Linked DNA regions of Homo sapiens. The protein of the gene in region 3 purifies or fractionates together with the protein of the main gene of each other region. This does not show direct contact. Each region holds a gene or a part of one and is shown on either strand. Other genes may lie near its edges. The genes, in order: NAPA, STX12, STX6 and GOSR1.

Region 1 (7,029 bases), on a different chromosome or scaffold from region 3:
CACCAGCCTGGCTGCAGAGATGGCTGCAGGGAGAGGTGGGTGGAGGGGGAAGGTTCCCCAGATAGGCACCCACTGCCTCCTCCCACCTGGCTCAGCTGGGGCAGGGGACAAATGAGCACATCCTCCATGCCAGGCCTGGGGCTGGTGCTTCTTGAGGACCCTGAGAGGGTCAAATGACGGTGAGCCCCCTTTTCAAAGTGAGGAAACAGATCCAGAGAGGGGCAGTGACCTGCCCAGGGCACGGTGAGACATGGGGTGGGAATGGGAACCTGGTCTGACAAAGCCCAAGCTTTTGCCCACCACCGGTGCCCACAGCAGGGCAGGGCTCTGTGGGGTGTGTGTGTGTGGGGTGTGTGGGGCCACCACCCCAGGCCGTGAGCCAGGGACACCAGGAAATCCTGGACTCCGTGCTTCTGCCAGGCAATGGTAAAAAAACTCCGGCCAAGCAAAATCTAGCGCCAACCCTCCAGCTCCTTCCCGCTGGCCACGCCCCCTCCCACTGCCCTCTTTGGCCCCTCTTTTGCCAAGTGTCCTGAAAATAGGTGGGCATGTGTGAGCTACAGCTAAAGCCACGACAGCAGGAGTCACAAAGATCTGGAACACTGGGGCTGCAGGTCCCTAGTCATGTGGCCTCAAACAAGGGACTCTCGTCCCAGCCTCACCATCTTCACCCATAAGACGCGGTGACAATGGTGCTGACTTTAATGGGGTGCAGTGAGGATTCAAAAAGTGCACCCATGAAGGAAAGAGCACTAAGTGAGGCAGGAGCTGGACCCGCAAAAGCCTCCAGGGCTGGGTGGGCAGGTGATGCCAGCACAGAAACACAGCTGTGAGAACCACACTTCTCATCCAAAGGCTGGCTGGCAGGGGCCAGACGTGAGGGAGGAGCACGTCCCTCTTCGGGGGCAACGGGACCTGGCCTGGAGATAAGCACATGGTGGCCTGGTGCGGTGGTCCTGCGGGCGTGGGGTGTGCTACCTTGGCGTTGAGCATGTCGATGCAGAAGTGGCAGAGGGCCGCCTTGAAGAAGTAGTCTTTGGCGCTGTACTTGAGGAGGGGGCTGTCCATGGCATTGGTCCCCACCTGTAGCCATGGAGAAGTGGCACTGGTGAGCTCAGGGCAAGCAGCCAGAGGGCCAGAGCCACTGCCAGGCACTGGGGGGCCAGCTGGGAGCTGGTTCATGTCCCGAGGTGAGGCCCTGTTAACCCAGGACCCCAAGGGCAGGGAGCCAGGGACCAGCTTGGAGAGGTCAGCGGCCAGTGCGTGAGCGACCAAGATCAGGGTGTGATGGTGGCTGGGTGGGGGTGGAGGCTGTAGCCAGGTGTTCGTGGGCCTTCTGAGAGCCTGAGACAGTGGGAAGGAGGCAGCCTGGCTGTCAGGACCAACGGGAGGCTGGCATGGCGGTGGGCAGAGCGGCGGCAGGCGGTGGGAACATGAGAGGCGGCGCCCGCCCCTCTCTCCCAGGGGGCCAGCTGCCTGCCTTTTTCTCGGCCATCACCCAGGGCTCCGTGCACGCTGGGGGGACCCCATGTGACACTCCCTCCCTCCCACTGTGGATGAGGACCATCGGGCCATGGGGTGGGGTGCCCACGGCCACCCTGGGCCTCTTGGCACTTCTTCCCATTCCCTCCCTCTGGGTTCTTTAGCCAGCCTCACTCTGGGCCCCTCCAGGAAGCTCTGCGAGGGGTGTGGGAGGGGCACAGCCAGGGAGAGAGACGGTGCTGGCACGGCATGGAGTCGTAGGTGGAGAACATTCAGCCAGGCTGAAGACAGGGTGGGGGGATGACATGGCAAGGGATGTCGGGGGAGAGGCAGAGGGTGAGCCGGGGGAGGGGTGGTTCCAGAACAAGGTGCCGGGGCTTAGGAGGAGGCACAGGCCCTGAGAGGGGGCAGGGTGGAAGCCGCCATCCCCACCTGTCCCCACCTGTTCGTAGATGTCAATGGCCTTCTGATACTGCTCCAGCAGCGCAGCGTAACCAGCCACCTTCAGCAGACACTTGTTGGCTGAGCTGTGTGGGGAGGAGTAGTGAGGGGAAGTGGTGGCGGTCCCTGCGGGGCTGGGGCAGGCAGGAAGGGGGCTACCTGTTGGACTCCTCGCCTTTGTAGTAGTCTGCAGACTGCTCGTAGTGGGCAATGGCCTGGGGAGACACGGGGGATGGGTTCCAGGGGAGGGCAGGGAAGGGAGAGGAGGCCTCCGTGAAGCTTCCACACCCTCCGCCCTGCCTGCCTGGGACACAGCCAGACCCCATTCTCCAAGCTCTGCCGGCGCCCCATGCCCCCTTCTCGGCACTCAGACACCAGAGGACTCCCCTGGTGGGAAGAAGAGAGAGCAGCACTGGTCCTGGCTGCCAGCCCATGCAGGGCCCTGCTGCCACTCACCTTCTCGATGTCCACCAACTCTGTCTCATAGATCTCAGCAATGGAGATGTGGTGCTTGGCCGCAATCGTGAATCGGCCCTGGAGGGGACACAGGAAGGGGCTGCCTGCGACTCATGACCTCCTGCGTGCCTGCCTGCTGACCTATGACCCTTCAAGTTCCCACCCCTCAGCCACGCCTGTGAGGAGGTATGAAGAAGACCTGAGGTGTGAAGAAGATCGAGAGGTGGGGGAACACAGGAGTGAGAAGGGAGGGCCCCAGCACTAGAGGCCTGGCTATGCGTGCTGGGCTGAGCGGGTGATGTTGGACAAGCCACTCCAGGGCCTTAGCCTAATTCCATCCCATCCACGAGGGCACAGATGGTGTGACACCAGAGAGAATGTGAGCACGAGCACTTGGCCAAGGCCCTGGCCCTTAGGAAGCCTCTGATAACAGCCAGAGAGGCGGAAGGACCAGTCCAGAGCCACTTGGCAAAGGGCTCTGGAGAAACCAGGATGGGAGGGAGGGCTTGAGACCTCTGCCCAAGAGTACCAGCTCTGCCCCCAGGCCAACACCTATCTGTCAGCCTCCCCCAGGCACACCCAGAGCTCCCCAGGGAGGCCTCAGGTTCCAAGGGGCCTCGCACCTTCCATCCGCCTCCACCCAGTGTCCAGGCGCTTGCCTAACTGCTCTGCACCAGGGGCTGGTCCAACGCCACCCCCTTGCTGAGGGCAGTAGGAAAGGGCAAGGCCCTGGGCTCAGCCAGACCTTGTTTCGGGTCTCAGTGACTCCTGCTTGTAGCCACATGTCCCTGGGCAAATCATGTCACTTGTCTGAGCCCCTCTCCTCCACTAAGGAACGGGGATGACAATAATGCCAACCTCACAGGGCTGTGGATTAAACCACCCTGCAGTGTCTGGCCTAATAAATGGCAGCTGCTATTATTGTTCTAATCACAGTCATCCCTGCAGCACTGCCCTGAACGCAAGGGGTAGGGCTCGTGTCCCTGCCTGGGGTTGGAGGGCTGAGACAGACAGGGCAAGCGGAGAGGCAAAAAGGAGCTGGCCAGGCACGGTGGCTCATGCCTGCAATCCCAGCACTTTGGGAGGCCAAGGCAGGTGGATCACTTGAGGTCAGGAGTCTGAGACCAGCCTGGCCAACATGGTGAAACCACATCTCTACTGAAAATACAAAAATTAGCCAGGCATGGTAGCACACGCCTGTAATCCCAGCTACTCGAGAGGCTAGGGCACGAGAATCGCTTGAACCTGGGAGGCAGAGGTTGCAGTGAGTGGAGATCACGCCACTGAACTCCAGCCTAGATGAGAGAGAAACTCTGTCTCAAAAAAAAAAAAAAAAAAAAAAAGAGAGAGAGAGAAAGCACTGACAGGAGCCCCGGCCTGGGTGGGACCCTTCACTCTGGCTCCAGTTGGCAGCTGCCCATCTGGTCTGCATCTGTCGTTGGCAACGCGCCCTGGGGGCAGGGCAGGTGCTGAGCCTCCTGTGGGCTCTGCCTATCCCTGTGGCCTGCTGCAAGATGCTTATCAAATGTGACACTTGCGGGAAGGCTGGGCAAGGGGAAGTGCCGGACACACACTCTCCAGTAACCTAATTTCTTTTTTTGTTTTGAGACAGGGTCTTGTTTTGTCGCCTACGCTGGAGTGCAGTGGTGTGATCACAGCTCACTGCAGCCTCAACTTCCTGGACTCAAGCGATTTTCCTGCCTCAACCTCCCAAGAACTAGGACCCCAGGTGCATGCCACTACACCAGGCTAATTTGTTGTAGAGAGGAGGTCTTGCTATGTTGCCCAGGCTGGTCTCGAACTCCTGTGCCCAAAAGATCCTCCCACCTCAGCCTCCCAACATGCCAGGATTACAGGCATGAGCCACCCTGCCCAGCTCAATAACCTAAGTTCTATGAATGAAAACCATGACTGCCTGTGGAGTGAGGGGGCCGTCAGGCTGGTGGGGAGCTGGGTGAAGACCCAGCCAGCCCAGGCCAGCTCAGGTGACCTAATCCCCCCAGCTCCCACTTCCCCCTCCCCAAGTGGTTTGGCCGCAGAATAAGAACAGTGCTGGGGGTGCTGAAAGAGGGGACGCAAGGCTGGGGCAATGCAGTGGGACCCGGGGGTGTCAGGACAAGCAAGCAGCCCTTACCATGTCTGTGTAGATCTCGATTGCTCGCATCAAACAGTTAATGGCCTCTGGAGAGAAAGGGAGGTGGGAGGAGACATGAGAAAGTGAAGTCGTTTCAGCAGAAGCTGAGGAGAGGAGGCGGACGCAGGCGCACCTGGCTGCCAGCAGAGAGATCAATAGGCGCTCAGAGCTGCCAGCGCTGCCACACACTCTCAAGGGGCTGGGAAGAAGGGGACGGAATCCCTGAGCCCCAGGAAATCTGGTGAGAGGGCTGACTCTGCAGACTGTGACTTGCTGGGCACATGCTTCTGGGGGAGCCCTTCTCTCCTCGGGCTGCCAGGATGCTACCAGCTTCCCACAACCCCAGGGACAGGGCACAGCAGTGCTAGGCCAGGATGATGGCCAGACTCCCACGGTGTTTTAAGACAGACCTGCCAAGGCCCTGCTCTTGAAGGACTGAGCTGCTGGCAAAGGGGAAGGAGGCATGGGAGGCGGCCAAACCAGCATCTGAGGTGGTCTTGGAGGCAACAGGGTGCCAGGTTCTACCTGGGCTCTGCCACCATCTCTGCAGGATCCTGAGCAGCTTCTGCTCCTGCACCAGGAGGACCTGGACCTCTGGCACGAGGAGGCTGGATGTCATCAACACTGAGCCCTCAGTGTGCTCTCCACTGCCCCCTCTTCCTCGTAGCTCAGCAGTCGGGAGCCCTCTGCTCAGTCCCTTTAACCTAGTCCTGCCACCCACCAGCTCCTCAAAGGTTTTGCCAAAAAACCTGAACACACCAGGATGGCACTGAGGAAGAACTGGGCTACCTTTGTTGTACTATCTCTTGCAAGATTTTAAATTTGGGAAAGGCTTTTTTTTGACAAGTTATTTGGAGGAGAGAGAAAAGCATGAGTGGGAGGCATTTTCTAGCAGACAGAAATGAGCTCTCAGGGGGTATTTTTTAAGAACACCATTTTAGCACATCTCAGGAGGACAGGGGTGTTGTGGGGAGGGAGGCCTGGGTTGGGGAGAGGGAAAGGCAGGGAGCTTGGACAGGCCACAGGGCATGGGCTCTGAGCTTCAGCCTGGGCATCTGAAAGTTCCTGGTCACCGTGGGGGTCTCCATGGTCACCCAGGCCATGTTCGCCTGAGAAGAGGGTGCTACCAAGAAGCGCCGGGGCTGGGCTCCTCTCAAGGGGCTCACGGTCTGGATGGGACTCCAAACTCCCTCCGTGGGGAGGCATCTGGACAGAGGCTCTTTGTCTCAGGTCTGTGGCTGGGCTTTCAGGGAGTCCAACCCCTCCTTCTGACATGTAAACAGTGGGGTCCATAAGCACTCCTCTGGGGAGTGGGGTCTGTAGGTTTTGTCCAATTCAGAAAGACCTCTGGGGATCTAAAAGGGACTGAGAGAAGGTACAGCACTCAGTCCAGGTTCTAGGGCTGACAGACCGAGACTGTGGCAGCAGACAGTGGAAACGGTGGCAAAAAGGGGGCAGATGAGGAGGAAGGGGAGAGAACACAACCTAAATCCGGCAGTTTGAAGACACATACATCCTGTAATCGGCGGACCCAGAAGCAACGGCTAAGCCGGGCCACGCTGCAGAGGAGAGCAGCAGCTGGAGTGAGGTGAGAGGCCCGCCTTGCCCCGCCCCACCTGGCTGCAGTCTCCACATGGAGGCCCCGGGCTGCTCACTGGTTCACTCTCCTGGCCGGAACACCCAGGACACCAACCTGGCACCCTGTGGGCTGAGGCGGCAAAGGCTGCTGCTCCGCAGTGAGCAGTGAGATCTGCAGCTGCCACCTGGGCCTGCTGGCACTGGCTCTGGAGCACCCGCCGTCAGCATGGCACAGTCCTTGCAGTAGCAGCAGGGAGACAGCTTACCCCCCAGGCAGCAACATGGACTCACGGGGTTAAGTCCCCTCCATGTCTGGAAAGCGGCGGGCCACCAGCAGACACCTGGGACAGCTGGCTCCTGGACGAGCTTCTGACACACTCATGACTGCTACTCTTATCTCAGGTCACCAGGCCTTGTGCACTCGGACAGGCAGAGCAACACCCAGTTCTGTGGCCTGGCCCCTCCTGTACCCACCCACAGAGGGCTGGAAAGGGGCTCAGAGCAATACAGCCCAAGTTGGGGAGCTATGGCCCAGGCCACCGCCCATCCCCGCAGTCACTCCTACCAGCGACGCCCAACCTGACTTCTGCGTCTCTGAAGCCCTTCCTGGTTACACTTGGTCATCTCCTCCTTAGTAAAATGGGGGCAAATCACAGAATGCACAAAGAAATCAAATGGGTTAAAAGATGCCAAGCATCTGGTACACAGTAGAAACCCAGTAAATGGCAGCTGGGGAGGAAGTGGGGGACAAGCAGGGGCCAGGTCGCTTCTCTGCCCCAGGTACACACACTGCCCCCACCCCCAACTATCAGGCAGGCCTGGGAAGAGGCCTCGCTGGCCCGAGTCTGCCCTGAGCAGCAGCCATGGTTGGGTAACTGAGGAACCAATAACACATATGAGCATCACCCTTCCCCACCCAGAGCCACCAAGGTGGCAGC
Region 2 (7,029 bases), about 150 Mb from region 3:
ATGTTGGCCAGGCTGGTCTTGAACTCCTGACCTCAGGTGATCCACCCGCCTCGGCCTCCCAAAGTGCTGGGATTACAGGCATGAGCCACTGCGCCCGGCCACAGAATTTAATGATTTTTAAGAGTGTAATGGGTTCCTGAGATTAAAAAGTTTGACAACTTTTGTTCTATTGAGTTGTATCTTTCTTTTTCATATTGATTCATGGGAATTCTGGGGTTTTTTTTGTTTTGTTTTTTGTTTTTTGAGATACAATCTTGTTGTGTCGCCCAGGCTGGAGCACAGGGGCACAATCTCAGCTCACTGCAACCTCTGTCTCCCTGGTTCAAGCGATTCTCCTGCCTCAGCCTCCAGAGTAGCTGGGATTACAGGCACGCGCTACCACGCCCAGCTAATTTTGTATTTTTAGTAGAGACAGGGTTTCACCATGTTGGCCAGGCTGGTCTTGAACTCCTGACCTCGTGATCTGCCCACCTTGGCCTCCCAAAGTGCTGGGATTACAGGTGTGAGCCACCACGCCTGGCCGAATTCTTTATATATTCTAAATGCTAGTCCTTTGCTATTAAATATATATAGCAATGTCTTCTCCCTGTGACTAGTCTTTTCACATCTTTACCACTTTTTTTGTTCTTCATTTCTTTCTGCTTTTCAGACTTTCCATCTGAGATCACTTTCCTTCCATCTGAAATACATTATTTAGAATTTCCTTCAATAAGATGTGCTGACAGAAAACTCTCTTTTGATTGAAAATGTCTTTAATTAGCCCTCATTCTGACATATATTTTCACTGGGTTTAGAATCCTAGGTAGGCAGTTATTGTCCTTCATCAACATTCAAGATAGCACTCTACTGGCTTCCACTGTTGTTGAGAAGTCAACTGTCAATCTAACTATTGTATCTTTGAAGGTATTCTAATGTTTCTCTAGCTATCTTTATGATTTTTCTCTTTGTCTCTGGTCTGAAGTTTGTCTTTGATGTATCTAGATTAGAGATTTTATTTATCCTGCTTGGGATTTGTTAGGCTTCTTGAAACTGCAGGCTAGTGTTTTTAATCAGTTCTAGAATATTATCACTCATTATTTCTTCAAATATCACCTCTGTTCTATGTTTGCCCTATTCTCACTCTATAACTCCAGTTAAAACTACGTTAGATCTTTTCTCTCCATTCTCCATTTTTCATAATCTTTCTTCCGTATTTAACCTCTTAACCCCCTATGCTACATGCTGGATAATATATTCTAACCAATTTTTTAGTTAAACCACCCATCCACTAAGTTTTTAAATTTCTATATTATATCTTTCCATTTTAGAAATTCTTTTGACACTTTTTCAAATCTTTGTGTAGTTTCCTGCAGAGGTTTTCAGCCTTTTATGTCTTTAAACACAATAAGTATAGTTGTCTTATAATTCTAATATAAAAAGTCTTTGTAGGTATATTTCACTTCATTGTTGTTTCTACTAATTCTTGTTCAGAGTAATTTGTTTCTTTGCACACATGGTTATTTTTAGTGACTGGTACTTACTGCCCTAGAAAAATTATTTGAGAGTATTATTTCAGGGCTAGGATAAAGGTGTCTTTCTACAGAAGGAATTTGTGTTTGCTTCTATCCCACACATAGGTGGCTCTCCCAGTCCAGGACCACTGAACCATTCAGGTAGGATGAATTTGAGCAGAAAATCTGCCTGAAGAAGGTTACTTTGTGGTAACCTTGTCTAGATTTCTCCTCCCTCCTGCCCTCCTCCTCCATCTGCTCAGTTCAGTGCTAATGCAATCTTTCTGTAATCTGCCGGGGGATAGAAGAGCTTACTTTTGACTTAATGTTCTAAGGATATAGTCTCTTAGGGCCCAGTTTAATTTGAGTTGTACCTTCTTTTATATTCTCTCTCTTGCATGGACCTTTGGCTTTGACTTTTATCCTCCCCATGCCATGAGGATATCAAAACTGAAGTTCAAGTTTGCCTTCAGTAAAGACATTCAATGCAAAAGCAGTTTCAGTATTCTGCTGACCTCTCAGGCTTTACCTTAATATTTTCATAATCTTTGATACTTTTGAGAAGTTGGATTTTTAAAATCCAGTATTTGAAAATCCTTTTCAAAAACAGAGGGCTAGTCCAAATAAACTAGCCTGTTATATTCCAGGAAACAGATTCATTATTTTTATTTTCAAGTTTTTAACGTTAAAACCAATATATCAAAATGAAAAAGAAAATTAGACATAGTTCTTCCTCCTATATCTCTTAACCTTCATTCAGATTCCTTTCTAGGCTTTGATCACATGCATATATGTTTTTTACATAGGTTACACCAACCTGCCATTTTCACAGCAGCTAACTTACATGTTTATTGGTCAAAGAGAAAAAGAAAAAAACCCACAAACTTGGAAAAGAACATTCTGATATTGCAAAGGTCTTCTTTTGGGAATCAACTTACAGAAAGACGAGATCCAGCTCTTGCTCTGGCAATACTCTCCTTTTCCTTTTCAGATACCCTTCTCTGCACAGCCTGGAAATTGTTTAAGGCTGCAGAGAAGTCATTCATGAGGCGTTCCTTCTGAAGTCTCTGCTGGCGCTAAGGAAATCAAGCAAGAACTTGAGATTTCATATTAACCCAGAATCATTTGGTTTTAATTTCCCTTAAAAGTAAAATTATACCCCTTAAAGATTTCCAACTAGGAAAATTATTATGAAATAGTCTCTTCTTTAAATTAATAAATTTGCTCTTTGCTAGCTCAAGTCCCTGGTTAATACTATAGACCAAGTCAGAATTTTTCTTCTTTCATTCTGACAAACCTGGAACTGGGTTGCATTTAACTTCTTCTTCTTTTTTTTTTTTTCTTTTTATTGAGACGGAGTCTTGCTCTGTCGCCCAGGCTGGAGCGCAGTGGCATGATCTCAGCTCACTGCCAACCTCTGCCGCCCGTGTTCAAGCGATTCTTGTGCCTCAGCCTCCTGAGGAGCTGGGATTACAGGCACCCACCACCATACCTGGCTAATTTTTTATTGTATTTTTAGTACAGATGGGGTTTCGCCATGTTGGCCGGGCTATTGTAGAACTCCTCACCTCAGGTGATCTGCCCGCCTCGGCCTCCCAAAGTGCTGGGATTACAGGCGTGAGTCACTGTGCCCAGCCTGTATTTAACTTCTAAAGTAATCTCCAAAGAACTGCAATTCAGAATTTTGGTGCCCTGGAGAATATAAAAGAGAATAAATACCTCTGGACTCCAGTTGAATCCAAACAGAGATGGGTTTTAGCTAAAATGTTAAAACCCTATTCATCTATATTGAATTCACAGCTTCCCTGTAAACTATAGAAGCATTTCACAGGCTTTTAGTGGTTTAAAATCTTTGAGACTTGGTAAGTACTTCATTTATCTACAGACTACCTCTACTAAGCTTGTTACTTCTATGTCTCAAAAAACATATGCTGAGGTTGAGCACAGTGGCTTATGCCTATAGTCCTAGTATTTTGGGAGGCTGAGGCAGGAGGATCACTTGAGCCTAGGAGTTCAAGACCAGCCTGAGCAACATGACAAAATCCTATCTCTACAAAAAATAAAAAAATTAGCCGGGCGTGGTGGTACACATCAGCTACTCAGAGGCTGGGGCAGGAGGATCATTTGACCCTGGAAGGTTGAGGCTGCAGTGAGTTGAAATCATGCCATGTACTCCAGCCTCAGCAATAGAGTGAAACTCTGTCTGAAAAAACAAAACAAAACACACACACACACACACACACACACACACACACACACACACACCACATACTGACAGCATTGTCCTGTTCTATGAACACAGAAGTAAAAACTCACCCCTGACCTCAAACAGCTGTCTATTTGTAAATAAAGGATATAGACAGACAAGTAACAAAGTTATTATAAATAACTGCTATATCCAATTGGTACTACAGGAGTTCAGAGGGCAGGAATAATCAGTAAGAACTCAAGCGGCCAAGAAAGGCCTCAAGAGAAGGTGGACAGTGAAGTAAGAGGAAGGCATGAATAAGCAGAAAGAAGGGGTAAGGCAAATCCAAGCAAGAGAATAGTGTGAGCAAAGGCATGGTGGCAGAACTTGAAGAGGATCTCTAGACAGACTGTTTGGTTGGAACTACACGTTTAGTAATGAGAGTAGCTAAAATACAAAATTGGAAAGTTAAGAAAGGGGCCAACCACAGCAGGTTTTAAATGCCAAGCTAGGCCGGGCGCAGTAGCGCATGCCTGTAATCCCAGCACTTTGGAAGGCAAGGTGGGTGGATCACTTGAGGGCAGGAATTATTCAAGACCGTCCTGGCCAACATGGTGAAACCCCATCACTACTAAAAATAGAAAAAATTACCTAGACATGGTGGCAGGCACCTGTAATCCCAGCTACTTGAGAGGCTGAGGCAGGAGAATTGCTTGAACCAGGAGGTGGAGGTTGCAGTGAGCTGAGATCGTGCCATTGCACTCCAGCCTGGGCAACACATGTGAAACTCCGTCTCAAAAAACAAAACAAAACGCCAAGCTATTGGGAGGATGAGGCAGGCAGATCACGAGGCCAGGAGATGGAGACCATCTGGCTAACATGGTGAAACCATGTCTCTACTAAAAATACAAAAAATTAGCCAGGCGTGGTGGCGTGCGCCTGTAGTCCTTTGCCACTTGGGAGGCTGAGGCAGGAGAACTGCTTAAACCTGGAAGGTGGAGGTTGCAGTGAGCTGAGATCGCGCCACTGCACTCCAGACTGAGCAAAAGAGCCAGGTTCTGTCTCAAAAAAAAAAACAAAAAAAAAAACAAGCTAATGAGTTTGGGGTTCAACCTCTAAAGAACAAAGAGCAATGAAGATTTTTGAGCAAGAAACATCATGGGTACAAAATAGTAACTTAGAAAAATTAGTCTGTGATGAGACCTGGGTCACCGTTTACACAAAGGTGGAATGGAAAAAAGAAACAAGTCAAACAGAACACTAATTCAATAGTCTAGGTTTAAGGTTAGGAGGACACAGTATCAGTAATAAAATCATAAAGAAATGAATTTAAGAAACATTTTGACTGGTGGTGGGGAAAGAGAGATAAAGTCAAGAATGACTGAAATTTCAAACCTGGAAGAGTGATGGTAATACTAAAAGCAAATTTAGATGAGCAACCCTTTTCTTCTGAGATTTTTATTTTTGCATAAACAAAATTATAACAATAACGGGGAGGACATCATTCCCTAACCTTACCGTGCAAAAATATTATCATAACTTTTAAATACATCATAAACATTTTCCATGTTACCATACTCTTCACAATTATGTTTTTGTTTTTTTTTTTTTTGAGACAGGGTCTTGCTCTGTCACCCAAGCTGGGGTGCAGTGGTGTGATCTCAGCTCACTGCAGCCCCAACCTCCCAGACTCAAATGATCCTCTCACCTCAGCCACCTGAGTAGCTGGGACTACAGATGTGTACCACGATGCCTGGCTAATTTTTTTTTTTTTTTTTTTTTTTTGAGACGGAGTCTCGCTCTGTCGTCCAGTCTGGAGTGCAGTGGCACGAGTTTTTTTTTTTTTCTTTTTTTGAGATGGAGTCTCGCTCTGTCACCCAGGCTGCAGTGCAGTGGCGCGATTTTTTTTTTTTTTTTTTTTGAGAGGGAGTCTCGCTCTGTCACCCCGGCTGGAGTGCAATGGCACAATCTCAGCTCACTGCAACCTCCGCCTCCTGGGTTCAAGCAATTCTCCTGCCTCAGTCTCCCGAGTAGTTGGGATTATAGGTGGCCACCATCACGCCTGGCTAATTTTTGTATTTTTAGTAGAGATGGGGTTTTGCCATGTTGGTCAGGCTGGTCTCAAACTCCTGACCTCAGGTGATCCGCCCACCTCGGCCTCCCAAAGTGCTGGGATTATAGGCATGAGCCACCGTGCCTGGCTAATTTTTGTAGAGATGTTGCCCGGGCTGGGTCTCAAACTCCTGTACTCAAGCAATCCACCCGCCTCAGCCTCCCAAAGTTCTGGGATTACAGGTGTGAACCACTGTGCCCGGCCATGATCTTTAATCGCTTACATATATTCCATCAAGTTGACCTAAATTTTATGTAAATAATCCTTCTAGATTTTTCACAGTTATTAAATATTATAAAGTAAGCCCCAATGTAATGGCTAATATTTATATAGTGCTTAAATTGTACCAGTACTACTGTAAGTGCTTTACATAATAATTCATTTATCTATACAATGACCTATAAATTAGGCATTATTATAGTCCCAACTTTACACATCAGAAAACCAAAGCACCACAGAGGCTATGTAATTTGCCCAGGATCACACAGTAAGTGACAAAGATGGATTTAAATCCAGGAAATTTGGCTCCAGAGTATATAGACTCTGTGTGTGTGTGTGTGTGTGTGTGTGTGTGTGTTTACCTTCAGAATTTTTTTTCCCCTTAGGGCTAATTAGCATGAGTGAGAATATTAGGTCAAAAGGCACAAACTTTTCTGTGATGTTAAGTATTGTCAATGAACTTAGTTAAGGGGTTTGGGAGAAACATGAGAAACTCAGTATAAGACAAGTTTTATATGAAGGTAGTTTATTTCAGGAGGAGATGTCAGAACATGAATTGAAGATATGGGCCACGCACTTAGAGGTGAAGGGGTTAGATTGGAAAAAGATCTGAGGTCATGATCATAAAGGTGAAAGGGAGGTCATAAAAGCAGGTGACTCCTAAGGAGAAAGCATACAGTGAAATAATTCGAGGATCAATGGCACAACCTTGGGGCATGCCCACTCTTAGGAGGATATGAAGTCCGGGAAGGAGGCTGACTCAACCTGGGGATCTCCAGAGTTGGGGGACACAATGAAAGAGAATCATGGCAAGAAGAAAGTTTCAGGGCAGACGGGATAGGCAAGAGGATCAAAGGAAACAGAAAAAAAGTGAATAGGCCAGGCATGGTAGCTCACACCTGCAATCCCAGAACTTTGGAAGGCCGAGGCAGGCGGATCACTTGAGGTCAGGAATTCAAGACCAACCTGGCCAACGTGGCAAAACCCTGTCTCTGCTAATAATACAAAAATTAGCGTGG
Region 3 (5,675 bases):
GGTGGCAGTTCTCTTGTCCAGTTCTAAGACTTTGATATCCATAATATTTAAAATAATTTTAAGTACATGTTTTGCCTTGTGGAGAGTTTAGCAGTTTATTTTCATAGATTGAGATCTTTTTGCAACGTGATTCTCAATAACTATAGTGTGCTAAAATCAGTGGGCTTTCAAAGAAACTTTAGTGAATCAATATGTCTTTATATTTCTATTTAAATGGAACTCTTATTCCTAGTGGTTGTACTGCATTTTCATACGCTAGTGAATTCTGTTATCAGTCGGGCCCTTTGTGGAAGATGCCAAAACTCATCAGTGGAAGGACTGCTCATTTTTTCTACATGTCTCCAAATTAAGGAAGCATCCTGATGTTGACAGCATCCTCTGTGCCCTAGGTTTGGGTATTGCACAGTGTGTGTATGACAGGGTTGTGTTGTTTAATTCTCACAACAGCCCTGCGGGGCAGCTGTTGTAGAGTTGGGACCACAGGATTGTGAGCTGCAGCAGGGCTCCCCCAGGGCCTGTCTGGGCCCTTCTGTCTCACAGGGCCTCCCTGCTCTCAGCCATTTGGATGGACTCTAGTCAAGTTGTTTCCTGTGCCTGCTGTTCCAAATTGTTGGTAGGGCAGAAAGTTTCAGAAAAAAAATTCCACTTTCATTTACAGAGGAGCTGTACAAGGTACTTTAACACAGTTACTAGTTAAGTAATCTTACTTGACTAGGTGTGGTGTGAAATTAATCATGCTGTCTCACTGGAGCTTGCTTTTTCAGCTGTATATTTCCTGAAGTGACCAGCAGTAGCTTTCATCTCCTTTCCCTCCTCCCGTTGTGCTCATTGAGAAAAGAATGTGATTATTGTTTAATTAAATGACTTGACTTTTATGGGAGATTAAAGCAGGCAGGCTTTGATCTGTAACACCATTGCCAACACCTTTTTTGAGGATATGCTAACTACCAGCAGAAAGCTAAGATCCGCAGATTTTAATTAAAGACTTGAGACACAAAGCATGTAATTATTACGAGACATTTTCAGGGGACTGGCAAAGTTGTGACTGCATGCGAAGTGCAGGCCAAGAACAGAGCAGCATTAGAGCATCAGGCACCTAGGCAGGTGTAAGATCATGGCCCCGTCATTTGCACGTTCTGCCCCTTTTCTGCTTCAAAGGGTGCCATAAATTCCATATAACTGTATCTTGGGGAATGTGGAGTCCCTGTGAGAGCTAATCCCCATGTCCTGCCTTCCAGATCGGCGCCAATGGTGTGCCATAGCCATCCTCTTTGCAGTCCTGTTGGTTGTGCTCATCCTCTTCTTAGTGCTGTGACGGCGGGGCCTCTGGGTGCGAGTTCCTCCTGCATATGAACCGAGGGGAGGAGGAGAAGCTGAGCACGTGTGACATTGCCGTCTACTCACATTCCTATCCTGGAAACATACTGCTGCACTGACTTTTCTCCGTGTGACCCCACAATTGACATGGCTCCTCCATCCCAGCGCTGGAAGGGCCAGTGGGAAGAGGAAATAGATGTCTGCACTCCTGGCTGCAGCTGGACAACAGAAGCCCCATGCCGCCTGTCCAGTTCGGAGGAGAACTAGCTGCTGCCTTGCCTTCCGGGACCTCGTTTGCTGAGGAGGGACTTACAGACTCCACTGGTGTTTTGCTGTTGCTCATTCCATGCATCTTTGGCAGCTCTTTTCTTCTGCTCAGACCCTTCCCCGTGCTCAGACAGTGCACCGCTGTCCCATCTAAAGAAACCTGTCAGGAATACGAGCTTCTGGGTATGTTTCGTTTCCCATTGCTGTAGCATTTCTTATCCCCTGAGAGCTGATGATTATTGAGGACAGAAGGCTCAGAAACAGTTTGTGACAGAAAATGCAGTGTTTCATTTTTCAGGGATAAATGCTAAGATAAAATTGCTTTTCCAGGTCATTTTTTTTTGTGGTAAGAATAACTAATGGAAAATAATGAAACACCCTGGGGTTTGGGGGTGCTAACAACTTGTGGCTTTAACTGACAGGAGCAATTAAAAAGAGCAAGAGGGTTCTGCATTGGCATAGCTTAGGGAAGGGTTAATGATGTCGCCACAGGTCAGCTCCTGATCCTTGCCGACTTGATGTTGCTGTACCAGGGCTTCCTCCCCAGAGGTGCAGCTTGCGTTTTGAGGGTGATTGCTACATATGTTGTTGCTAAACAGCTCAGTAACACACTTGAATGAATTTGGATACCAGATTGTCCTCATTACAGTTCTTTTACTCTTAGGGCACTCTACACTGGGGGTTGGGGTTGGGAGTGGTTAGTACATTTATTACATTTATTAAGAAACGTAATGACATAAAAGGTTAGCTCTGGGCCAGACTTCTCTTACTCTGTGGGTAATGGCAAGGATGTGTAGGTAAACTTGGTTCTTTTTTTTCCCTAAGATGACAGCTTGATTTTATCATCTGCAGTCAAATAACTGAGCCAATCCAAATTTAAATGATAGATGCTTTAATTGAGTTTAAGTAGCTGAAACTGCTGAGACACTAAACTTTAACCTTCTGATGACTTTTTAAAATGCCTCAAATGTGCACATGTATATAGGATATTTTTATAACTTCCCTGATGAATAATCTGATATTAAAGTAGTATTTGGACCCAGAGCCAGAACTCGGTGGTGGAGGCTGCTGGTCTCTCCTCACCACCTTCTTTTGCACTTGGAAAGAACAGCAACATCTGGATAGAGTTCTAGCTTTGACTTCTCATTTCCTTGTCTTTTTGGGTGCATTCCTCAGCACACTTTTTTTTTAAACCTTTTTGTTTTGTTTTGTTTGTATTTCATGTGGTTTTATTTGGGGGTTTTGGTTTTTTCACCCTTTTTTGTGATTTGCAATGATGTGCTTGCCCAGCTAACTTTTGAATTGCACTTTTTAATAAATATTCTTAACAATTTTTGAAGAAGGATATTTTATCTCATTTGAGATCATGGTAGGTTAAGAAAATATGCCTGTTGATGAAAGCTAAAAGCAAATTTATGAAACTAAAAGGGTGATTGACATCCATGTTTACACTCCGCTCTAATGTTTGATATATAAATAAGTTATTTTCAAATTAGGAAAAAACAGTGAGTATTACAAAGGGCTTCAGATGTTTAGAGTACTAGGTTATTTATGTTTTACAAAGTTTGAATCTTCTATAAACTAAGAAAGGGGATGATCCTTAGATTTGCATTAAAATATAGAAGTCTTTTAAAGTAAATGTGAACCTTGTCTAAGTACTGTAATCCACACAACACATTATAAGAAGCAAACCAGCATCTTAAGGAATTATAAAATTACCCTATTTAAAAGCCATGCTATTGTTCTGCTATTACCAGATTTATTGTGCCACACAAAAGGATCATGTGTGTCAGCAGGGGCCGTTTGGAACAAACCTAGTCATTAATGAGTAAGATACTCCTGTTAGTTCAGGGACCAAGTTTTATGACCCAGAGGCTTAATGATGTTTGGATATATTTCAAATCGGCGTGCTTACCTCACTGATTTAAATTATTTTCTAAATAGTGGCCATTGTAGACCTGACTCAGGCTGAAGCTAAATAGAGAACAATTTAGAAAGTTAACTAACAATACAGTGCATTCTACCCGTAGGGCCACCATGCCCTTCTGCCCCTGGCTGATTTGATCCTGTGTCTGATCCCATTGCACCCTGACTGGGCAGTCCCTACAGAACCAGTGTTAATTTGAAGGGCCTCCACTCAGGCTCCAAATGTGGCAGCCAAAGAGAACAATCCAGGGAACCTACATTTATTTTTAAGGACAAATATTTCCTCCTCAGTGGTCCTAATGTTCAGGGCTTTAGAGGGAACCCAGGTGGTCTCTTCACCCTGTGTCCTAGAATGGGAGAGTAAGTAGACAGTGGTGATAACCCCACACTGCTTATAAGTGCATCTTTATAGTATTTGGGGCTTTCCTACCCCTTTAGCCTTCTGTACCTAGTACCATATTCCAGTTTTAAAGAACTGGCAGAATGTGATGGATAACAGAGGAAGAGCTCAATTTATGTTTATTGGAAGAACATTTTACTTAAATGATTTGAGGGGTGGGAGGGAGTGAACTACTGAGTTTGCCAGAGTGAAAATCCATCTGAAAAACTCAGCTACCTTTAGTTTTTAGTCCTCATTTTTGGTCTTGTCTCTGCGGACTGTGAAGAATCACAATGCTCTATATGCCCTGGACTGTGTGGCAAATGCAGGTTGCAGCGTGTGTGTTACATGAGGATCTTCCACAATTTCAGAATGCACGCCAGAGCTGAAGGGGGAAACTTGGTAACTTGCCCATTATTCTCTGCTTTTAGCCAGAGTTAAACAGACTGATGGGTCTGGTAGCCAACAACTTGGCAACTTCCACTCCTTCTCACCTCGTGAGATTAAGGGCTGTGAAAAGAAATCTAGTCTAACTCCAACAGAAATCTGTCTCTGTTAAGTGTTTTACCTTCTGTAAGTAGAGATGGTAGAGCCAAGATTTTTCTTTTGGTAATTTCCCTGTCTATAAAGTGAGACCAAAGGGATATCTGTTCCCTGTTACCTTTTTGGAGAATTCATAACATTTGAAGATCAAAAAATTGAATGATAAATATGAATGGCTTTTCAATTCTGTGGACTTTGTACCATTTGGCTTCACCTTGTACTGCAAGATGAATTTGTAAACAAAACAAAATTGGACTGTCTGGAAAGCTAAAGTTCTGAAATATGGAATGTACTGCCTCTAATTTTTCTTTGTCTTCCTCTCACTGGCATTTTTTTCTCTCCCAGGTTTCTTAAGAATAATGTTTTTTAAAGGAGGCTTTTTGCCCATCAAGAATAAAAAGAAATAAAACCAAAGGGTTACCGGACTTAAGCCCCCGCAGTCACTGTGCGCCATCCCTGAGCAAAGTCCGCCCCTGAGGACAGTGCCCCTGCCCCAGTGACAGGCCTTACTCCTCCCAGGGCCTTTGCTTCTAATAGGGGGTGGTCTTTCTTTTCTTTCTCTCCTTTTTTTTTTTTTGATTAAAAAATAAAACCAAACCAGAATTTGCTGAAAGCAGGTACCTTTCAGTAGCTCCGATCAGAGTAACTCAGCTTAGAGATACTGTTACTCAGGACAACAGTATGTACAAAAGTCTCCGGAAAAGGAAAATAAAACAACCTGAAAAGAATTCAACTTGAAAAGGACTGAATTACTAGAATGATCATATAGCAGAATAACACAAAATGCAACAAAGAGCCACCCAAGCCTGAGGGTAAGACCTCTACTTCCCAGATTCTTGGATCATAGCCCATGACTTCTTGGGGCACAGAGGCTGGCTTCAGCATGAGGATCTCACCACTAACTGCATGTAACTCATCCATGCCTTGGGCAGAGGCTAAACACACGGAACAAGGCCACCAGACAGGTACACATGAACCCATGAGAGCGGTGCTCTCTGTAGAGTCTATAGACCTGGCAGGGACCATGGATAGCTTAGAGGTACTTACTCTGCAGCTGGTCACATAAGACCCTAGACTGGCCAGGCGCGGTGTCTCACACCTGTAATCCCAGCACTTTGGGAGGCCGAGGCGGGCAGATCACGAGGTCAGGAGATCGAGACCATCCTGGCTAACACGGTGAACCCCATCTCTACTAAAAATACAAAAAATTAGCTGGGCGTGGTGGCGGGTGCCTGTAGTCCCA
Region 4 (7,029 bases), on a different chromosome or scaffold from region 3:
GGTGTGAAAGCGGTGGCTGTCAAGAGTCCCTGAAGATGTCCCATCAATGGAACGCATACAGCAGCAACAGGATGGTACAGATCCCAATAACACCCCCTAGGATGAGCGAGTCCCGCCGCTTCCTCAGGTTGATCCTCTGGATCAGGCTGTTTACAGCAGGAAAACGATCTTTGGGAAATCTTTATTAAGGTCATATTTGGAAGAAGCCTCTCTGGCGAAAAGTCGTAGGAATCACAAAAATAGAGATCAGTGGTGTCTAGAAACAGTGATGAAAGGCATGGGGAAGAAACTCACACCAAGGGAATCTTTAGCAGATGCAGTTGCCCAAACCGGGAACGCGCTGCGGCTCAAGGCCCCTAACCAATACACATCTCCCAGTCTTGTGTGTAACACAAATAAGAATAGTAATAGAGAGAGAGGGAGAAGAAAAGGACGATGACAGTTCCCAAGCACTGAGGGCTTACTGCCAGGCTTCAGGTCAGGGTGGGAGCCAGCGTGGCCAGGAATGGAGGAACTCTGGCAGGGAGGCACAGGCATAGCCAGCTCCCATCGCCACCACCACCCATTTCCCTCCCTTTCCTCATTTTCCTTCTCTTTTCCTCTTCTCTCAGGAGACTGGGGAGTTCTGCCTGAGAGTTTGAAGAAATACCTGATCTTTTCCCGCCTTAGATTCAGGCAATTCATGGGAACCAACTCTAAGGTCTATATAATCAGACACTGGTGAATTATTAATATTTTCAAAGTTACTTCGCAGCAGAAGGCAGATACAGGAGGAAAGTGGACTAAACTTTAGCCCTGACCCACACCCATTTTTTTTGATTTTTTTTTTTTTTGAACACATTCTTTTGGAGTAATTGTAAAATTCCCATGTGACTTATTTGTATGAGGCGCTATGCTAGGTTCCAGTATACTACTTTGCCTTAAGGGAACTTAGTGTTGGGCTGGGCAGGGTGGCTCACACCTATAATCCCAGCACTTTGGGAGGCCAAGGCTGAAGGACTGCTTGAGCCTAGGAGTTTGAGACTCGCCTGGGCAACATGGTGAAACCCCATCTCTACAAAACATACAAAAATTAGCCGGGCATGGTGGCACGTGTCTGTAGTCCCAGCTACTCAGAAGGCTGAGGCGGGAGGACTGCATGAACCTGAGAGGCTGGAGGTTGCAGTGAGCTGAGATCGTGCCACTGTACTCCAGCCTGGATGGTAACAGGGTGAGACTCTGTCTTAAAAAAAAAAAAAAAAAAAAAAAAAAAAAGAGAGAGAGAACTTATGGGAGAGATGCTTACAGAGCAGTAGAGAAGAGGTCACAAAGAAGAGTGGTGGTAAATTCTAATGAACAATTGAGAAAGGCTTTAGTGTTTTAAATCATCAGCTATCTGACTCACACTTCTATTTCAAAGTTTCAAAAGTTTCACTAAATACAAACTCTTAAATTCACTGATCAGCTTTTCTGGCTGGCAATTGAGTTCATAGTTTAGTAAAATGAGATAATGTATATAACAGCACTCTGTAAATTTTATAGCCCTATCTAAAATGTGATTTTAGACATGTGGTTTTATACTTAGGGTGACAAGGCAAGAACAAAATTCACAGTGGACTGGAGAATAACAGCACACATCAGGAGAGTCTTTTCCTTAGGCAAAGACATATCAAACTAAAAGTGAACTCAAATTATCTAGGACTACAAGATACTCAGCTTTTGAAAATTCTAGGTTCCTCCCCCTTTGGCAGTTGGGGAGGAAAGCTTTTTGCCTAGAAGGCTTGTCTTTTCAGAGGTTCGCTGAATGAAATGACTCAGAGTGCCAGGCTTTTCTGGTTCCCTAGTGGGTTTCTGGGAAGTATTAATAATCCTAATTTAAAACAGAAAACTGAAACATTTTAAAGTAGAGGTTACAACAAACAAGTGGAGAATGTATCCTAGAATTCAGCCTGTGCATAGAGTTACAAACTCCATCAGTAGCTATAGCTCATCTGCACGGGTGGCTGTCTCCTTCCTTCCCCCTTCCAAGCATCTGCCACTGACTTATCTCTAAATGGGAAAAACAACAAAGGCATATAATTTATCATGTTTAGGTAAGAATAATGTATAGTGTGGAGTTCTAACATGAATTTAAAAGCTTTCTAAAATGTAGAAGAAATTGGTGGATAATTTTTAAATTCACATTTATAATTTTTTTCTTCTACATCTAGTAGTAAGAAACTTCTGAGGTGCAGTCTTTTAGGAATGGTACTAAAGAGCATAAACTTTCACAAAGTAGGAATGCACAGTATATTCATATTATGCAATTACTGATGGGCTCTACTGCTACTGATGATGGCAACCTGCCCCCTATAAAAGCACACACAGACACTTCTCCCCTCTACCCTCAAAACACAGACTGCGAACATTCAAAAAGGATACTGGCCAAAGTGTTCATTTTGCTGTGAATTGACTTCAACATTCCTCTCTGTGAAGTCATATTTTCTTTTGTTGCCATAGCAATGCTGCAAGGGGAAAAAAAGATGACAAATCACCATTTAAGATTATCCTGCCTGGAACCATCATGCCTTTAAAAGTGAAAGAAAACTACAGTGAGCAACATCATCTTAGAAAGCACTGTGCCAGAAAATAAGGGGAAAAAATCACTTCCGAAGCCACTTTACCACTGCGCTTTTTCCAAATGACTCCACTGTTCTCTGATATCTTTTTATACAAGGCAGTAAGCCACTTCCTATGTTTGCTTCAAAATAACAAACAAAATAAGGCATAAACAGACAAATCACATATTACAAAAGCTTCTTAAAATTTAAAGTTTAAAAACTTTAAAAAGTTTAAAAAGAGTTTAAAAAGAAGCCAGCTACTAAAATATCTTTAATCAGGAAAAACTGTTGAAAGGGAATTATAATTATAAAAATAGAAAAGAAATATAAAATATCATAAAATGTGAATACACAACCAGCCCTTAATTTATGAAGAGATTATGTTCCAAAATTCTACTTGAGAACCAACTAGGCATGCATGCAACATTATGCTGGGTTTCCATGATGGCTGACAAAGGTCACAGACTCATTAAACGTGGCTAAAACAGCTGGGTGTGGTGGCTCACGTCTGTAATCCCAGCACCGAATTTGGAAGACCGAGGTGGGAGGATCACTTGAGCCCAAAAGTTCAAGACCATCCTGGGCAATGTGGTGAAATCCCAACTCTACCAAAATAAAAAATTAGCTAGACATGTGTGCCTGTAGTCCCAGCTACTCGGGAGGCTGAGGTGAGAGGATCAATTGAGCCCAGGAGGGGGGGGCTACAGCGAGCTGTGATGGAGCCACTGCACTCTAGCCTGAATAATGGAGCGAGACCCTGTCTCAAAAAAAAGAAAAGATTAAAGAGAAAAGAGAAAGTCACTTTTGGTCGAACACAATCTCTTCCCTGTGACTACCTTGATGTCCTGTTTAAAAGATCTCTTGAGTTAATATCCTTTTTTTGGGGGGGGTTGGGGGTTGGGGGACAGGGTCCTGCTCCGTCACCCAGGCTGGAGCCCAGTGGTGTGACTGTGGCTATTGCAGCCTTGACTCCCTGGGCTCAAGCAATCCTCCCACCTCAGCCTCCTGAGTAGCTGGGACTACAGGCATGTGCCATCATGCCTGGCTAATTTTTTTTTTCTAATTTTTAAATTATTTCTAGAGATGGGGTCTCCCTATGTTGCCCAGGCTGGTCTCAAACTCCTGGGCTCAAGCCATCCTCCTACCTCCGCCTCCCAAAGTGCTGGAGTTATAGGTGTGAGCCACCAAGCTTGGCCCTAAGTTAGTATCATTTTGCTATCACTTCCAGGATTATTCATTTCCCATAGTCTTATCTCTCTGGACATTAGAGCCCTAGAGGGCAGGGTCAGTATCCACTTTGATATGTAACACTCAGAGGAGTGCTTTGCATGTTGACATTATAAATAGCAACAGAAAATGAAATGCTGTTGAGCAATTTTGAAAATATCTATTTTTTTTTTTTTTTAAATCAAGAGATTGAGATTTGGGGAAGATGATGGTGAGAGTATAAATTCCTGACTTGACCTTTGGTCCATTTCCTCCATGGAGTAGCACAAGAATAAAAGCAGACACACTAAGGAGGGTCCATCTGAGGCCCCAAGTTCCCTTGAGATCTCCAGGGAAGAAAGCCAGGTAGAGGGCTATACTCTCTGAAGTGAAGAGAGAACCAGGGAACTGACAGCAGGGAAGCTTAGATTTTTCTTCAAGCTTGAGGCAAAGACCTAGGGCTTCCTTGCTTCCTGAGGAACCCAGACAGTGGAAGACTATGGATCTGCATACACAGGGGTTGCAGTGAAATTGCTCCCAGGCACTGAAGCTGGGAAAGGACTGCTACATGCAGCCAGAAAGATGACAAGCAGAGAGCCGATAGTCTTGTAGCTGGTGTGATGCCCAGCCCCTAAGGGAAGAGCCCAGTGATGGATGCATCACTGCCTGATATGCCATTGCTTAAGAGGCTCTCATAGCTGGATCTATCTGGGAGCTGAGTGAACACATTTTTGGCCAGGTAAGGTCTCACAGAGTAAACCACCATGTATCTTATTGAAGGGAAATGCTAGAAGGAATATTCTAAACAAATGACACATGAATCAAAACTTGAATTTCAAGATTTGAGATGGCAAAAGAGAAACAAAAGTGTGTAAGGAGGTATATACAGGTTGAACATCCCTAATCTGAAAATCAGAAATCCCCAAGACTTCTGGTCCCAAGTATTTTGGATAAGCAACATTCAATCTGTAAAAGAATATTTGTTGAAGCATTTTTGGAATAGTAAAAAATGAACAACAACAGCAAAAAGACCAAAAAAAAAAAATCCCCCAAAACTGGAAGTAACATTTGAATGGTATAATAGATTATGATATAACCATACTTTGGTTATTAAAAAGGATGAGTTAGTATTATTTCTATTAACACGAAGGGGTGTTTATAACATATTGAGTGATTAAAGCAAGCTACGGAATGTGCAGAATATCAATGCTGTAATATTTTCAGAAACAAACACCCTTGGGGATGTTTGTATGACAGTGAAAAAGTTGTATATCAGTAAGATACACAATTGTCACTTAACACAAGTTACTTCAGAGGTTAAGAATGGAGGGGTACTACCAGGAGATTGACTTTTCCTTTATCCATTTTAGTATTAGTTAAGTTGTTACAATAAGAACATTTTGATAATATACAAATGTACTTCGATAATATATAAATATCTAATAAAGAAAAATGAAAAGAACATTAGAAAAATCCCACCTGAGTGATTAAGAAATGTTAACAACATCTGAAGCTACACACACACACAAAATTAACATGGACATGCTAGGATTTAGATCACTTTCAACTGAAATCACAGGCAGTGATTACATAGTATTTGGGTATTTAAAAAAATGAGTTAGGGCTAGGCGCGGTGGCTCATGCCTGTAATCCCAGCACTTTGGGAAGCCAAGGCAGGTGGATCACTTGAGGCCAAGGAGTTCAAGACCAGCCTGGCCAACATGGTGAAACCTCTTCTCTACTAAAAATACAAAAATTAGCCAGGCGTGGTGGTGAGCGCCTGTAATCCCAGCTACTGGGAGGCTGAGGGTGAAGAATCACTTGAAGCCCAGGAGACAGAGGTTGCAGTGAGCTGAGATCGCGCCACTGCACTCCAGCTTGGGTGACAACACAAGACGCAGTCTCAAACAAAACAAAACAAAGTTAGTATTTCTATTAACTTGAAGGGATGTTTATAACATATTGAGTGATTAAAGCAAGCCACAGAATGTATAGAATATGAATCCTCTAATAATTACAGAAACAAACATCTTTGGGGATGTCTGTATGACAGTGAAAAAGGTATCAGAAGGATACACAACTGTCAGTTAACACAAGTTGCTTCAGGGGTTAAGAATGGAGGGGTACTACCAGGAGACTGACTTTTTCTTTTTCTTTTTTTTTGTTTGAGACGGAGTCTTGCTCTGTCACCCAGGCTGGAGTGCAGTGGCGCGATCTTGGCTCACTGCAACCTCCGCCTCCCAGGTTCATGCCATTCTCCTGCCTCAGCCTCCTGAGTAGCTGGGACTACAGGCGCCTGCCACCACGCCCAGCTAATTTTTTGTATTTTTAGTAGAGACGGGGTTTCACCGTGTTAGCCAGGATGGTCTCGAACTCCTGCCCTCGTGATCCGCCCGCCTCAGCCTCCCAAAGTGCTGGGATTACAGGCGTGAGCCACCGCGCCCGGCTGACTTTTTCTTTATCCGTTTTAGTATTATTTAAGTTGTTACAATAAGAACACTGTACTTGTATAATATACAATATACAAGTGTCTAATAAAAGAAAAATGAAAACATTAGAAAAATTCCACTTGATTAAGAAACGTTAAATAACATTTGAAGCTACACACACAATTAACATGGACACACTAGGATTTGGATCACTTTCAACTGAAATCACAGGCAATATCTGCAAATTTAGAAAATGAAAAGTCCTAGAGAATATTACAGTTCTTCCAGGGTCCTGATTTCCTATGTGTTTTAATGCTGACAATCCCATCTTCCCAATACTTTTAGGCCTATTCTAGAAAAATATCTGTTCATGTGGAGATATTATGGTCTGGTCTTTTGAAATGACATTTCAGAATAAAGAAATGTAACTGGGTAAAACTAAAACAAACAAAAAAATACATTAGCAGCTCCAAATCCACCACTGTGATGCACCTCAATAAAATTATGAGTCAAGCAATGATTTTAAAAAGTTTTCCACAGATCTCAGAAATGCTCAAGAATGGAAGGGATCACTCTCTCTGAGGGCAGAACTGTGGAGTAGGGTTAAAAATGGAGATTTGTAGAAATTTGTACAAGGAGTTGCCATAACCCAAAATTGCCCTTCCTAACGCATGCAGCTAGGTGGCTGCCCCTAGTCCAGTAGAAGACCTAGCTCAGGAGAAGAGACATAGAGGTCTGGCAATTTGAAGTCCCCAGTGAAACAGCCAGGTCCGCCTGATCACGCATGGTGAGGCCTAACACTCAACAAGTGTCAC

What was found.
Region 1: the proteins of STX6 (region 3) and NAPA purify together in Homo sapiens (affinity purification with mass spectrometry; 4 studies listed by BioGRID and IntAct, with this or other methods). This does not show direct contact.
Region 2: the proteins of STX6 (region 3) and STX12 purify together in Homo sapiens (affinity purification with mass spectrometry; 6 studies listed by BioGRID and IntAct, with this or other methods). This does not show direct contact.
Region 4: the proteins of STX6 (region 3) and GOSR1 purify together in Homo sapiens (affinity purification with mass spectrometry; 3 studies listed by BioGRID and IntAct, with this or other methods). This does not show direct contact.

Annotation. Positions count from the first base shown.
Region 1 is NC_000019.10:47,491,037-47,498,065, forward strand, and holds part of NAPA (alpha-soluble NSF attachment protein), read right to left. Parts: intron 4,561-7,029; coding exon 4,514-4,560; intron 4,109-4,513; exon of another isoform or gene 3,992-4,108; intron 2,566-3,991; exon of another isoform or gene 2,458-2,565; coding exon 2,380-2,457; intron 2,139-2,379; coding exon 2,083-2,138; intron 2,010-2,082; coding exon 1,925-2,009; intron 1,084-1,924; coding exon 979-1,083; intron 1-978. UniProt on the Homo sapiens protein: Required for vesicular transport between the endoplasmic reticulum and the Golgi apparatus. Together with GNA12 promotes CDH5 localization to plasma membrane.
Region 2 is NC_000001.11:27,797,215-27,804,243, reverse strand, and holds part of STX12 (syntaxin-12), read right to left. Parts: intron 2,567-7,029; coding exon 2,429-2,566; intron 1-2,428. UniProt on the Homo sapiens protein: SNARE promoting fusion of transport vesicles with target membranes. Together with SNARE STX6, promotes movement of vesicles from endosomes to the cell membrane, and may therefore function in the endocytic recycling pathway.
Region 3 is NC_000001.11:180,972,210-180,977,884, reverse strand, and holds the end of STX6 (syntaxin-6), read left to right. Parts: intron 1-1,238; coding exon 1,239-1,315; 3' UTR 1,316-5,160; downstream 5,161-5,675. UniProt on the Homo sapiens protein: SNARE promoting movement of transport vesicles to target membranes. Targets endosomes to the trans-Golgi network, and may therefore function in retrograde trafficking.
Region 4 is NC_000017.11:30,515,393-30,522,421, reverse strand, and holds part of GOSR1 (Golgi SNAP receptor complex member 1), read right to left. Parts: intron 2,484-7,029; coding exon 2,401-2,483; intron 169-2,400; coding exon 44-168; 3' UTR 1-43. UniProt on the Homo sapiens protein: Involved in transport from the ER to the Golgi apparatus as well as in intra-Golgi transport. It belongs to a super-family of proteins called t-SNAREs or soluble NSF (N-ethylmaleimide-sensitive factor) attachment protein receptor.